3 linked regions of the Homo sapiens genome follow. The protein of the gene in region 1 interacts with the protein of each later gene in a pairwise test. Each region holds a gene or a part of one and is shown on either strand. Other genes may lie near its edges.

The links.
Region 2: the proteins of PAK3 (region 1) and ARHGEF7 interact in a two-hybrid assay, tested with the Homo sapiens proteins (one study listed by BioGRID).
Region 3: the proteins of PAK3 (region 1) and RHOJ interact in binary tests that used the Homo sapiens proteins (3 or more experiments, as listed by UniProt).

The regions. Positions count from the first base shown.
Region 1 is NC_000023.11:111,093,942-111,097,693, reverse strand, and holds the start of PAK3 (serine/threonine-protein kinase PAK 3), read right to left. Parts: upstream 1,504-3,752; 5' UTR 1,279-1,503; intron 1,152-1,278; exon of another isoform or gene 957-1,151; intron 305-956; 5' UTR 238-304; intron 120-237; 5' UTR 10-119; intron 1-9. UniProt on the Homo sapiens protein: Serine/threonine protein kinase that plays a role in a variety of different signaling pathways including cytoskeleton regulation, cell migration, or cell cycle regulation.
Region 2 is NC_000013.11:111,279,159-111,282,910, forward strand, and holds part of ARHGEF7 (rho guanine nucleotide exchange factor 7), read left to right. Parts: intron 1-1,113; coding exon 1,114-1,192; intron 1,193-1,379; coding exon 1,380-1,519; coding exon of another isoform or gene 1,520-1,576; exon of another isoform or gene 1,577-1,966; intron 1,967-3,752. UniProt on the Homo sapiens protein: Acts as a RAC1 guanine nucleotide exchange factor (GEF) and can induce membrane ruffling. Functions in cell migration, attachment and cell spreading. Promotes targeting of RAC1 to focal adhesions. May function as a positive regulator of apoptosis.
Region 3 is NC_000014.9:63,277,408-63,281,159, reverse strand, and holds part of RHOJ (rho-related GTP-binding protein RhoJ), read right to left. Parts: intron 190-3,752; coding exon 25-189; intron 1-24.

The sequences.
Region 1 (3,752 bases):
CGCACTGACCTTTACACCTTGCTCATCCCAGAACAGGGCCACGGTGTTGTCACCAACAGGAATGGACCTCCTTCTGTTCCAATACCTCAGACAGCCATACACTTGGCCTGGATTTGAGTCTGCAAAACCATGAGGGGAGCAAGACTAACATGGCTAAAGGCTTCCCTGCTGAAAGCCGTTTTTTAAAAATAGCACTGCAACCGCCCCCATCATGCTTCCCAAAGCCAAGCCACTCACCCTTCTCTCCTTCGCTTCTACAGACCAACAGCCCAGAACCCTCAAGTCTAGAATCTGGAACTGGATTCTGAAAGGTGGGACCAAAAAAAAAAAAAAAAACAAGTGGGGCCTCTATCTCTCTCCTTGCCTGCATCCCCCTCTTCCCACCATCCCCCACCCCACCCCACCCCTTAACCACCACCTAGGGAAGGAAAACTTGCCAGAGTAAGAATCTAAAATGTTCAGTTCACCCAAAAGTGCGGCAGTAATCTTGCCAGAGCCAGTTCACAAACTGAGGGCAATGTCCCCCAGCGAGCTAAGGGGAACAGGAGAGAAGGAGAGGCAGTGGACCCAATGACACTGCTCCCCAGACAAAGAGAGGGCCAATCCAGGGACCCTGAGCTTTCTGGGGGCGTTATTGCATCATTCCAATCCCCACAGGAGAAGAAAAGGGTCCCCCTGTTATTACCATCCCCCCACCAAAAAAAGGGGAGGGGGATAAAGAAAAATAAAAGAAAGAGGGGAAGGCGCCCGTTTAAGAAAATCGTCACTTTTTCTCTTTCCTCGTGTGTGTGTGTGTGTGTGTGTGTGTGTGTGTGTGTGTGTGTAAGGGGCGGGGGGGTTCTACCCCGGACTTGGCCAGACCGTGGCCACACCCCCTCCCCTTTTCTAGGGAACTGCTGTCACAGCTACTGGGGCTGGGTAGGGGGGCGGGCGGGGGGGTGAAAGGGAAGACTTACAGGCTGACGTAGCTTTCAAGGCGGGTTTTGCCTCAAGCGGCCCAGGCCCCAGTAAACGAGTCTAGGGTTTGACCAAGCGAAGGAGCCCCGGCCCTCTGGGAACGGCCCTGACACACCCACTTGTCCGCGAACTGGGATCATGCAAACTGCTCGCTTGGTCTCAGGGCTCCGGGGAGCCACGTAGGAGACTCGAGGCTGGGGCACAAACAGGACAGGAGGGGGGTCCGGAAAGGCAGAACATCTGCCCAGCAGCCTTAAAGCATCATCCAACAGCCACCCCCTCCCCCGCGGTAGCCCGGGTGCAGTTAGTCGCGGGATTTACCTGCCACGGATCCAGCCACCCCGTCAAGACCTTTCCTCTACCTCCGAGCGCTCCAGCTGGCGGGGCTGGGGAGCCGCAGCCCCGCGGCCGCAGCCGCAGCCCCGGGCCCAGCCCGCTCCCCCTGGCTCTTCTCCCGCCCCCGCACACTGGCTCGAGGCGGGGAAAAGCTGCAGCCCCCAGTGCGAGATCCCAGACGGTTAGCTGGCACAGCTGCCCGCCCGCGGTAGAGCCCCTGCTCGGCAACCGCTCCCTAGCCCTTCTCTGCTATTACGTCACCCGAGCTCTGCACCTTACCTAGGCCAATCAGATGGTGAGCATAAAACTAAAATCGCCCTGAGTGGGCTACTGGGGACCAATCTTTTGTTTCCAGGCAGGAAGCGCCTGGGAGGGGGAAAAAACTGAAGGGGAGGGAACATGGAGAGGGAAAGGGAAAGGAGATGGAAACTTCTACACTGTCAGGGTTGTCTAGACAGAGGTGGGGCCATCAAAAAAGAGGGGCACCTGACAGGATGGAGAGGAGGGGAGAGTTCATGTATCTTCCTTAATTGCTCCCCTCAGGAGAATTGAGATTTCAGATGAATTTTCAGGGGACGAAATCTGTACAGCTACACGGGCACACTTTATTCGGGGGAAAAAACGGTTTCGATTTGGGACACCACCTGTCAGCCAGGCAGGTTAAACTGACGGAATCTCTAAAATACACAGAAAACTAAGAGAGACAGATGTGGCAGTGGAATTCAAAGAGATGGCAGTCTAGATCGGGAAACTACTTTTCTGCATATGAAGCACACACATTCCAAAAAGCAAGGAATTATACAAAAAATAAAAATAACTCTACTTCAAATGGAGCTTAAATGCGATTCTCTCTGTCCATCCTTTCCCTTAAACCTTCAAAGCTTTCTCTTGTCTTTAGGATACGGTTCAAATTTTTGCAGATGGCCAAAGCTTTATAAAATCTAACTCCAAAAATAATCTCTTGCTACTCCAAAATCCATACTCCCCATGATTTGGCTAGATTATGTAAATTATGGTGAATCCCAGCAAGGCGACAGTAAGCTGCCATAAAAAGTCAAATAATACAAAACAATAAGGACATTCAAATTATAATGATGTAAAATATGCCTACAGAAAACGATCAGAAGAGGACATAAAATTGTAACCGTTGGGTTAAACTAGTAGTATTATGAGTAACTTTTTCTTTCTACTTTCAAATTTATTTTCATAAAGATAAATATATCCTCACATACTTAAATGGCCAAAATAGATCATGACCCTTCCCAGTGAACTTTTATTCAATTTTCTCCACACTGTGTAACATCCAGCAATAATTTCTCCATAATGCCAACAAAATAGGTTTCAAGAACAAGAGTGAACTAATATATCTGCCCAGGTCCTTTTAGTAAAAGTCGTACAAAAGAGCTACAGATGACCACACGCGGTGGCTCACACCTGTAATCCCAGCACTTTGGGAAGCCCAGGCGGGCGGATCACCTGAGGTCAGGAGTTCAAGACCAGTCTGACCAATATGATGAAACCCCGTCTCTACTAAAAATACAAAAATTAACTGGGCATGGTGGCATGCGCCTGTAATCCCAGCTACTTGGGAGGCTGAGACAGGAGAATCACTTGAACCCAGGAGGTGGAGGTTGCAGTGAGCCGAGATTGCGCCACTGCACTCCAGTCTGGGCAACAAGAGCAAAACTCCGTCTCCAAAAAAAAAAAAAAAAAAAAAAAAAGAGCTACAGATTCGCCAGACAAAACATCTCAGGCAGTTGAAGAATGGGATGCCTCTTTTGGACTGATTCATTTTAAATTGTGATGATACAGGGAATTGAGAAAAACAACAACAATGATCCACTCTATGCCAAAACAAGAAAGAGGGAGGCAAAGACTAAGTAAACGATGTAATCCAGACCATTTTTAAGGGTCAGTTTGCATTTTATTTTCCTAAATTCAAAATATATATATTAATGCATATATGAGTATTACATTAACATTGTAGAAAGTGGTAGAGCTGGGATTTGTATCGAAATGAGTCCAAAGTCCATGCTTTTTCTAATATGATACAGTTTACTACTGCTAAGAATTAAATGTGGTATTACTGGTTTTGTTAAAATACATACTTGCTTTAAAAGAAACAGACTATATAAGATTGGCATTTTTAAAAAATCAGGCATTTTTAAAAATAGCTTTTTTGGTGTCGTGGTTGTCTTTAATGCAAAAATATACAACACTCTTTCTCAAATCCTTCATTAATAAGTTGGAATCAGGATGGTTCTGACTCCAGTGATTTTACAGATATCTTTTTAACTAACTTTGGAGTTAAAAAAAAAAAGCAACCACATCCCACTGGTTTTTTTCTACACCATGGTAAAAATAATCTAAAAAAATCACAAATCAAAATGAATGTAATTTATTCAATGTTAACATCTCTGATTTGTAAAATGCATTTATTTGGGTTAAACAAGAACCTT
Region 2 (3,752 bases), on another chromosome or scaffold:
TATGCATTACGAATCTTGGAAAGGAGTTCACAGTGTGTAGCATTTTTTAAATACGCTTGGCCACAGAAGTGTCCAGCAGTCTCCTCTTCCACCGGCCATGCTTTAGGATGAGATTTCTCAGCCTGGGCACTGCTGACGTTCTGGACTGGATCGTTCATGGCCAGGGGCTGGGGGTCTCGGTGAGACTGTCCTGGGCACTGTAGGGTATCAGCAGCCTCTCTGGCCCTTACTTGCTGGAGGTCTGAGCCCCTGCCAGGTTGTGGCACTGCCACCCATTCTCTGTGGGGGCACGTTCCCCACACCAGTTGAGCAGCACTCCGTCTGGAGGTGCTTATGTAGAATCCTGCTCCGCAGCTGATGGAGTGCTCCCCAGGCAGCGCTGCCCAGACGCCCACTGCCTCTTCCTGCGGACTTGGTGGGCCACCATGTACTGTGGTTTCTGTCAGCTGTGCCAGGATGTTTTGTGTTCACTTCTGACTTGTTTGTAATGATCACTTTGTACCCCCTTTCTGGTATCTTTCCATTGACATTTCCTGGTGCAGTTACCGATTTCTTCTGTTTTCAGGGAGCACTGGTTTGCCAACCATTTTGTGCATTGTGTGCAGCATTTAGCACAACTACTTATTTTCTGTTTTACAAAGTAGAATGTTATGAAATTCTTGTTCTTGCCTCAATTTCCCACCCTTATTTTGACTTTAAACTTGGAACTTCCTCTGCATTTCTTTACGAGGAAAATACATGGTTCTTTTCTGCAAAAACATCATTTAAAACAACTGTTATACACGGTAGTTTTTTAAAAATCATAATGTGTGATGTCTTTTGTCCTGGTGTCTATGTTTAGTAGCAGCTCATCAGATACAGTGTGTGTTTGGGCTTGTCACTCTGTCCCTTGTCGCCAGTTGAGTTTCTTGCTTACAGTACAGTATTATAATTTATTATTTGAGATAAAAATTTTTGTATTATACACACATCTGCTACAAATGAGCTTTTTTTGGTTCACAAACACAGTTCCTCCACCAATTCTAAAATCATTTAATATTGACTTTAATAATGGTACCTTTTTCTAGAAAAGCACTAATTGTTTTTTTTTTTGTGGGGGGGGGTCTTTTTTAGGGAAAGCTTCCAACGACAGGAATGACAATCACAAAGCTTGAGGACAGTGAAAATCATAGAAATGCATTTGAAATATCAGGTGATAGGCACAAGCTGTGTGAGTGCTGTGTCTCGGGGAGGAGAGGCAGCTTGTCCCCGCGTGCAGATTCTTGCTTGCGTATTTCAGAAGGTGGTGTTTAAGCGCTGAGTGGAATTCTGGGGGGTGTGCACGCACGTGCTTTTTACCTGTGTTTCCACTCGGCCTATTTTTTCCTTCTCTCCTATAGGGAGCATGATTGAGCGGATATTAGTGTCGTGCAACAACCAGCAGGATCTGCAGGAATGGGTGGAGCACCTACAGAAGCAAACGAAGGTCACGTCTGTGGGAAACCCCACCATAAAGCCTCATTCAGTGCCATCTCATACCGTAAGGACTTGGTGCTTCTCCTCCTTCCAGACTCCAGGCGTGGCATCCCGTGGCTGAGCTGTCAGCAAGTGATCAGTTGCTTTAAAACCTAATCAATATTTGGATAAAAAGTGCAAAACACTTGCTTCACATTTCTCTGCAGATCTTTGGCCCTCTTCGTGCAGTAGTGAATTGTTTTCCAATGAGTGTTCTCGAGAAACAACCCTGAATTGTGCCTCCTCACGCACAGTTCAGAGGTGCTTGGGTGGGAAGCTGCTTCTGCTCCGTGTGGCCCTAGAAGACTGATTTAGGGGAGTTTTACACTCAACTATAGATGATTTTTCTGAGAATTTTAACTGTTTATTATGCTTCATTTAAGAAAACAAAAAATAAATGATTATGATGATGAAAAGGGCCAGACTCATGTTGAAGGCATTAAAAGAATTTATGACACACTGTTGATTTTAAGAAATTGAGGTGTCTTTTACTTAGAAAAGCTCAACAAGTCTTTGGATATTTAGAGACTTTTTTTTTTTTTTTTTTTTTTTTTTTTACAACTTTTCAGAATAGATGAACACTGAAGCTTCAGTGTTTAAACCTCTCCTGGTGTTTTGTGCTCAAGAAGTTGGTATCGGGTTGTTTTAACAGTCGTCATCTTTATCAAGTAATACGGAAAAACTGGGCAGAGCTTTTAAAGAATGAATGACGATGACACAGGCGTTTTCTGCTTACAGATTTCCTCACATCCTTATTAGGCTATTAGGATCAGCTCTGTCGTGTGCTCAGTTTTCATGTTTTCTTCTTCATGTGAAGGTTGTAGCTCAAGAAGGATTGCTGTACTCTGATATTCTCATCAGAGTTTCAGAGTCCATCTGATTTCTTTCAGCAGTAAAGATTGTAACTACTCATTGGCTTTTAGCTAGCATTTCATTTTTAATGGCTCTACCATTTTAAAATTCTCCATTCTTTCATGGAGATCAGTTTATCCCAGGGACGTGTGTGTACACGTGTGTTTATAAAGAACAGTGGATGAGCTGCTTCACTCAGGTTTTCAACAGCAGCCTGAAACTCTACTTCATACAATTTTATATCAAGTCAGCTTTTCTCTGTGGCCAGACCCTCCGTCTTAGTGTTTCTTTCACTGGTGGCTGGGAAGGCATCCCTTCAGCGGGGAAGGCACTGTGCCTCATGTTTAAAATGTTCTGCATTCTCCTACAGAGTTTCTTGTGTGGGATGATGTATTCTGTGATCCAACTCTGACCAGCTGAAATCATTTTCTAATTTTAGCATAAAGCATACTTCCTTTGACTTTTTCAAGAAAGGAGAAACAAAACCAGACACTGCTTTGACGTTGTTGCTAGAAGGGATGTCTTACATAATTTTATCCATCTATACATTATTTCCTATGAAAAGATGACCTTACAGTGGCTTCATAGCATGACCTGCATCTCACACAATTCCCTCCCCCATGCAGGGACTAGAATGTGATCGTTGCAGGAAGTTGATGGCTTCTATTCTTGAAATTGTGGCATTAGCTGCCGTCCCTCTCAGCCTGTGTTTTGAAGGTCGCGCACTTCCTCAGAATGCCGGCCCCACTCCGTTTCCAGTTCACAGCGCCACACAGCTTGTTCTCCCATTAAATGCACCTTACTATTGTTGGCTAATTTGAGGTCATTATTGGCTGATTTTGAGAATGACTTATTTAACTTTTCTCATTTAACTGTCATTGTGATGGAATATTTTGGGTTTTCCAGGAATATAAAATGCATTAATGGCACACCGCTCTAAGAAGTTAATTTTTGATTAACTTTGTTTTGATTAAAGTTGAGTTTTCTAAGAACATAATTGGTTTTAATACCAGGGTTTGGCAGTGTTCAGTAAAGATCCAGATGGTAAACGTTCTCTGCTTTACAGGTTCAGGCCTCTTGCAGCTGTACTCTGCCCTTGGAACACAACAGCAGTTTTAGACAGGCACAGGCCTGCCTGTGTGCCAGGAAAACTTTTTTAAAAAACAAAACTAGGCGATCAGGCCTTAGTTTCGCCCAGTACTTTATCACCAGGTGAAGAATAATACGTGGCTGGGGGGGAATCACCTTCCTTCTTACAGCCACATGCCCTGTGTGCTTTTGTGAAATTCTCATCTTTTTACTAGATGAAGTACCTTTTTTCTATAAATGTTACTCCGTAGCTAATAAATGTGGCTAGTGGATGTCTTTTGAGTGCTGGGGCCCCAGCTAGAGCTGCCCCTCCTGTC
Region 3 (3,752 bases), on another chromosome or scaffold:
CCCTGCCATCGCCCACATTTTAACCTGGGTCCCTATGAGGACATAAGGCACGTGAGGCATGCAGTCCTTGAGCTCGGGGACCCATTCCTCCTGGACATTGTGGTAAGAGGCAGGGTTTACGACAGAGAAGCAGATCAAAAACACATCCGTGTTGGGGTAGGAGAGTGGCCTCAGCTGGTTGTAGTCCTCCTGTGGGAAGAGCAGACAAGGGTTTGTACAGCCTGTGTAAGGTGTGTCCCATGTAGTTCCAAGGTCAGATTTCAGGTAAGAGTCCACTACAGCGCACTGGGATCCCGTTTCTTCCTCAACCCTGGAATCTGGTAGTTCTTTCTCTACTAGAACTAAAGGAGCCATCAGTCAGAAAAATACCTTTTTGTTACGTACAGAGATTATGTATTGCCCCTTCTTAAGATGAACTTAAAATATTTTTAGCAGTTTTATTGAGATATAACTTATATACCTACCTATATATACCATAAAGTTCACCCATTTATTTTTATTTTTAAATTGTATACATTTAAGGTGTACAACATGGTGTTTGATATACATATATATGCTACAGTGAAACAAATTAACATATTCATCTCCTTACAGCTTACCTTTAAAAATATATTTTACGGTGAGAGGACCAGAGACCTACTCTCTTAGCATATTTCCAGTATGCAATATAGTATTATTAACTATAGTTATCATGCTGTATATTACAGCTGTAGACTTATTCACCCTAGCTAACTGCAGCTTTGTACCCTTGATCAAAACCTCCCCGTTTCCTTTCCTTACTTGCCTCTGGTAACAATAGTTCTACTCTCTGTTTCTATGTATTCAAAAGTTCACCTGACCAGGCACAGTGGCTCATGCCTGTAATCCCAGCACTTTGGAAGCCAAGGCGGGAGGATCACCTGATTCCTTGAGCTTGAGATCAGCCTGGGCAATATAGCGAGACCCTATCTCTACAAAAAAATACTAAAATTAGCTGGGCATGGTGGCACACGCCTGTAGTCCCAGCTACTCAGGAGGCTGAAGTGGGAGGATGGCTTGAGCCTGGGAGTTTGAAGCTGCAGTGAGCCGTGATCATGCCACTGTACTCCAGCCTGGGCAACACAGCAAGACCCTGTCTCAAAAAACAAACAAAATAAAACAAAAGACCAAAAGTTCACCCATTTAAAGTGTAACATTCAGTAAAGATTATTGCAATTCTTCCATCATGTTGGAATTGTGTTATATTGAATATACTATATTTAAATTAGTGAGCTATTTGCCAAGGCAACAGGAATCCTCTCCTCACACGATTAAAAAAAATTATATCCAAATTTAATTTAGAATAAATGAACTAACATGCAAAACAAGAGTTATTGCCAAATTTGACACCACAATATTTGAAGAAATATGTTGAGTGAGGGTTTAGAGCTAAGAATTTTGGATTTGTTTCAAGTATTACTTAAAGGCCAAATAAAATGCTGGCTTAATTATTTTCTTTCTAAAGATTTTTCAGAGCAGAATATGCTCATGGAAGAGTTTCTGGTTACATAAGATATTTATGTATTTGCTATTTTAGTGGGAGTTGATAAATACAAAGTAAAACTGCGCATCATTTCGACTTTGGGAAAATGTTGGCAAGGGCTTTTACTGTATGTAAAATGTTTTAGGAGGTTCCACGGTAAAACCTGATATTTCAATAGAAAGTTTTATATGTTTTTATAGAATTTAGTAACACATAAACAGACAGTAACTTTGTGTGTAAGCGTGCATACACATACCATATTTATATATACATCACATATCGCAACATGACATGTGTCCATACACACCATACATAATTTGTATGTGTATACACACTATATATGATGTGTGTGCACTATATATGTGTGTATACTATATGTGCAACTAAACTTATATGTTCACACCTATGATATACATGTATTCATAGAGATGGGTTAATAAATAATTAACTCATTTATTAGGGGCATGACTACTCTTCATGAAACATTTCAGAAACTTACAAAACATGTATGTGCTCATTGCAAAAATGCAAACATTGAAGAAGTACACAGAGTTGAAGTGAAAGCTTGTTTTCATCCCTGATATGATGTCTAATAGTATTTCCTCTCCCCAGAGGGAGCTACTGCTTAAACATTGTCCTTCCAAACATTTTATTTTACTTTATTTTATTATTTGAGATGGAGTCTCAATCTATTGCCCAGGCTGGAGTGCAATGGCGTGATCATGGCTCACTGCAGCTTCAGACTGCCGGGCTCAAGCGATACTCCCACTTCAGCCTCCCAAGTAGCTTGGACTACAGGCACATGCCACCACACCCAGCCAATTTTTATTTTTTTTGTAGAGATGGGGGTCTCACTGTGTTGCCCAGGCTGGTCTTGAACTCCTGGGCTCAAGCAATCCTCCTGCCTCAGCCCCCGCCAAAGTGCTAGGATGATAGGCGTGAGTCACCATACCTGGCCCATTTTATATTTATGTATGTATACCACATACACATGTTTAGTTTAAAAACAAATTGATTAAATTGTTCATATTGTTGTGCCACTTGTGTTTTTTAAAACAATATATCATGGATATATTTTTAATATCAACCTTTCTATTGACTCTAATAATATATTTATTAGATAACGGGTTGATGGGTGCAGCAAACCACCATGGCACGTGTATACCTATGTAACAAACCTGCACGTTCTGCACATGTATCCCAGAACTTAAAGTATAATAAAAAAAATTTTAAAAAAGACCAGAAAAGGAAGTACACACATGTGCACACTACATACACATGAGACTGAAAGGAAGTACCTTAGAATGTTAAGTATGGTCCACTCCTGTTGGTGGGCATGCATTGATCTATTGTTTAGCTACTCAGAGTATGCAGAACACGGGACTCAGTATATGTGGCCACTACTGCTACTACTATTAAAACTTAAGCACAGGTTTTAGGTACCTAATGCAAAATGCAAAGCAAGAGGGCAATGATGCTGAAAAGTAAAATCCTAAAAAATAAACCCAAAACAAAAAAAACCCCCACTATTGTGGCTAATTTACCACATTTCTAGTCAATAATTGGGAGTTGGGTGCACAGCTGAATAATCACTGGTCATACTGGGAAGTTGTGCCAGGTCTACTGGGTTGCATCTCAGCCAAGTTGTGCCTATGTCTGTGTGTGTGTGTGTGTGTGTGTGTGTGTGTGTGTTTGTGTAGCTGGTGAGGCAGTGGAGAAAGGGATAGCTAAATTCTTGGCACTACCCTCTCCTCTTTACACAACTAGCTCTGAAAAACAAACCTCCTCTTCCATGGTCTCCCCACTTCTCTCTTTTCTCTCTGGAGTGTTCCCTTAAAGAGCAGCTGTAAGGCCCGTGAGCCAAGAAGTCTCCTTCCCAGGCTATAATCTACAGCTGTTCACCACACCACCTGCCCTCTGCCACTGCATGCTCCCATCTGGATTGTCATAAATGGAGTAGGGACCATGTTGATTTTTTTCTCATCCCTACAGGTACTCTTTCCGCAGTAAATATTCAATAAATGCTATTGACAGACTGGAAGAAATGACCTCTACAGTGACCTGCAAATGAACACGTGGCACTTCTGTGGGCCATTTATTGCAGTGACTTTTATTAGAATCACCTGGGGAGCTTTTAAACCATCCTGAAGCTCTGCTAATCAACTCCTTGCTCCACCCCCTTTTCTACTCTGGAACCAGCTAAATTAGAATCTCTGGAGAGTGGGCCTGCGTATCTGGGAGTTCTGACTTA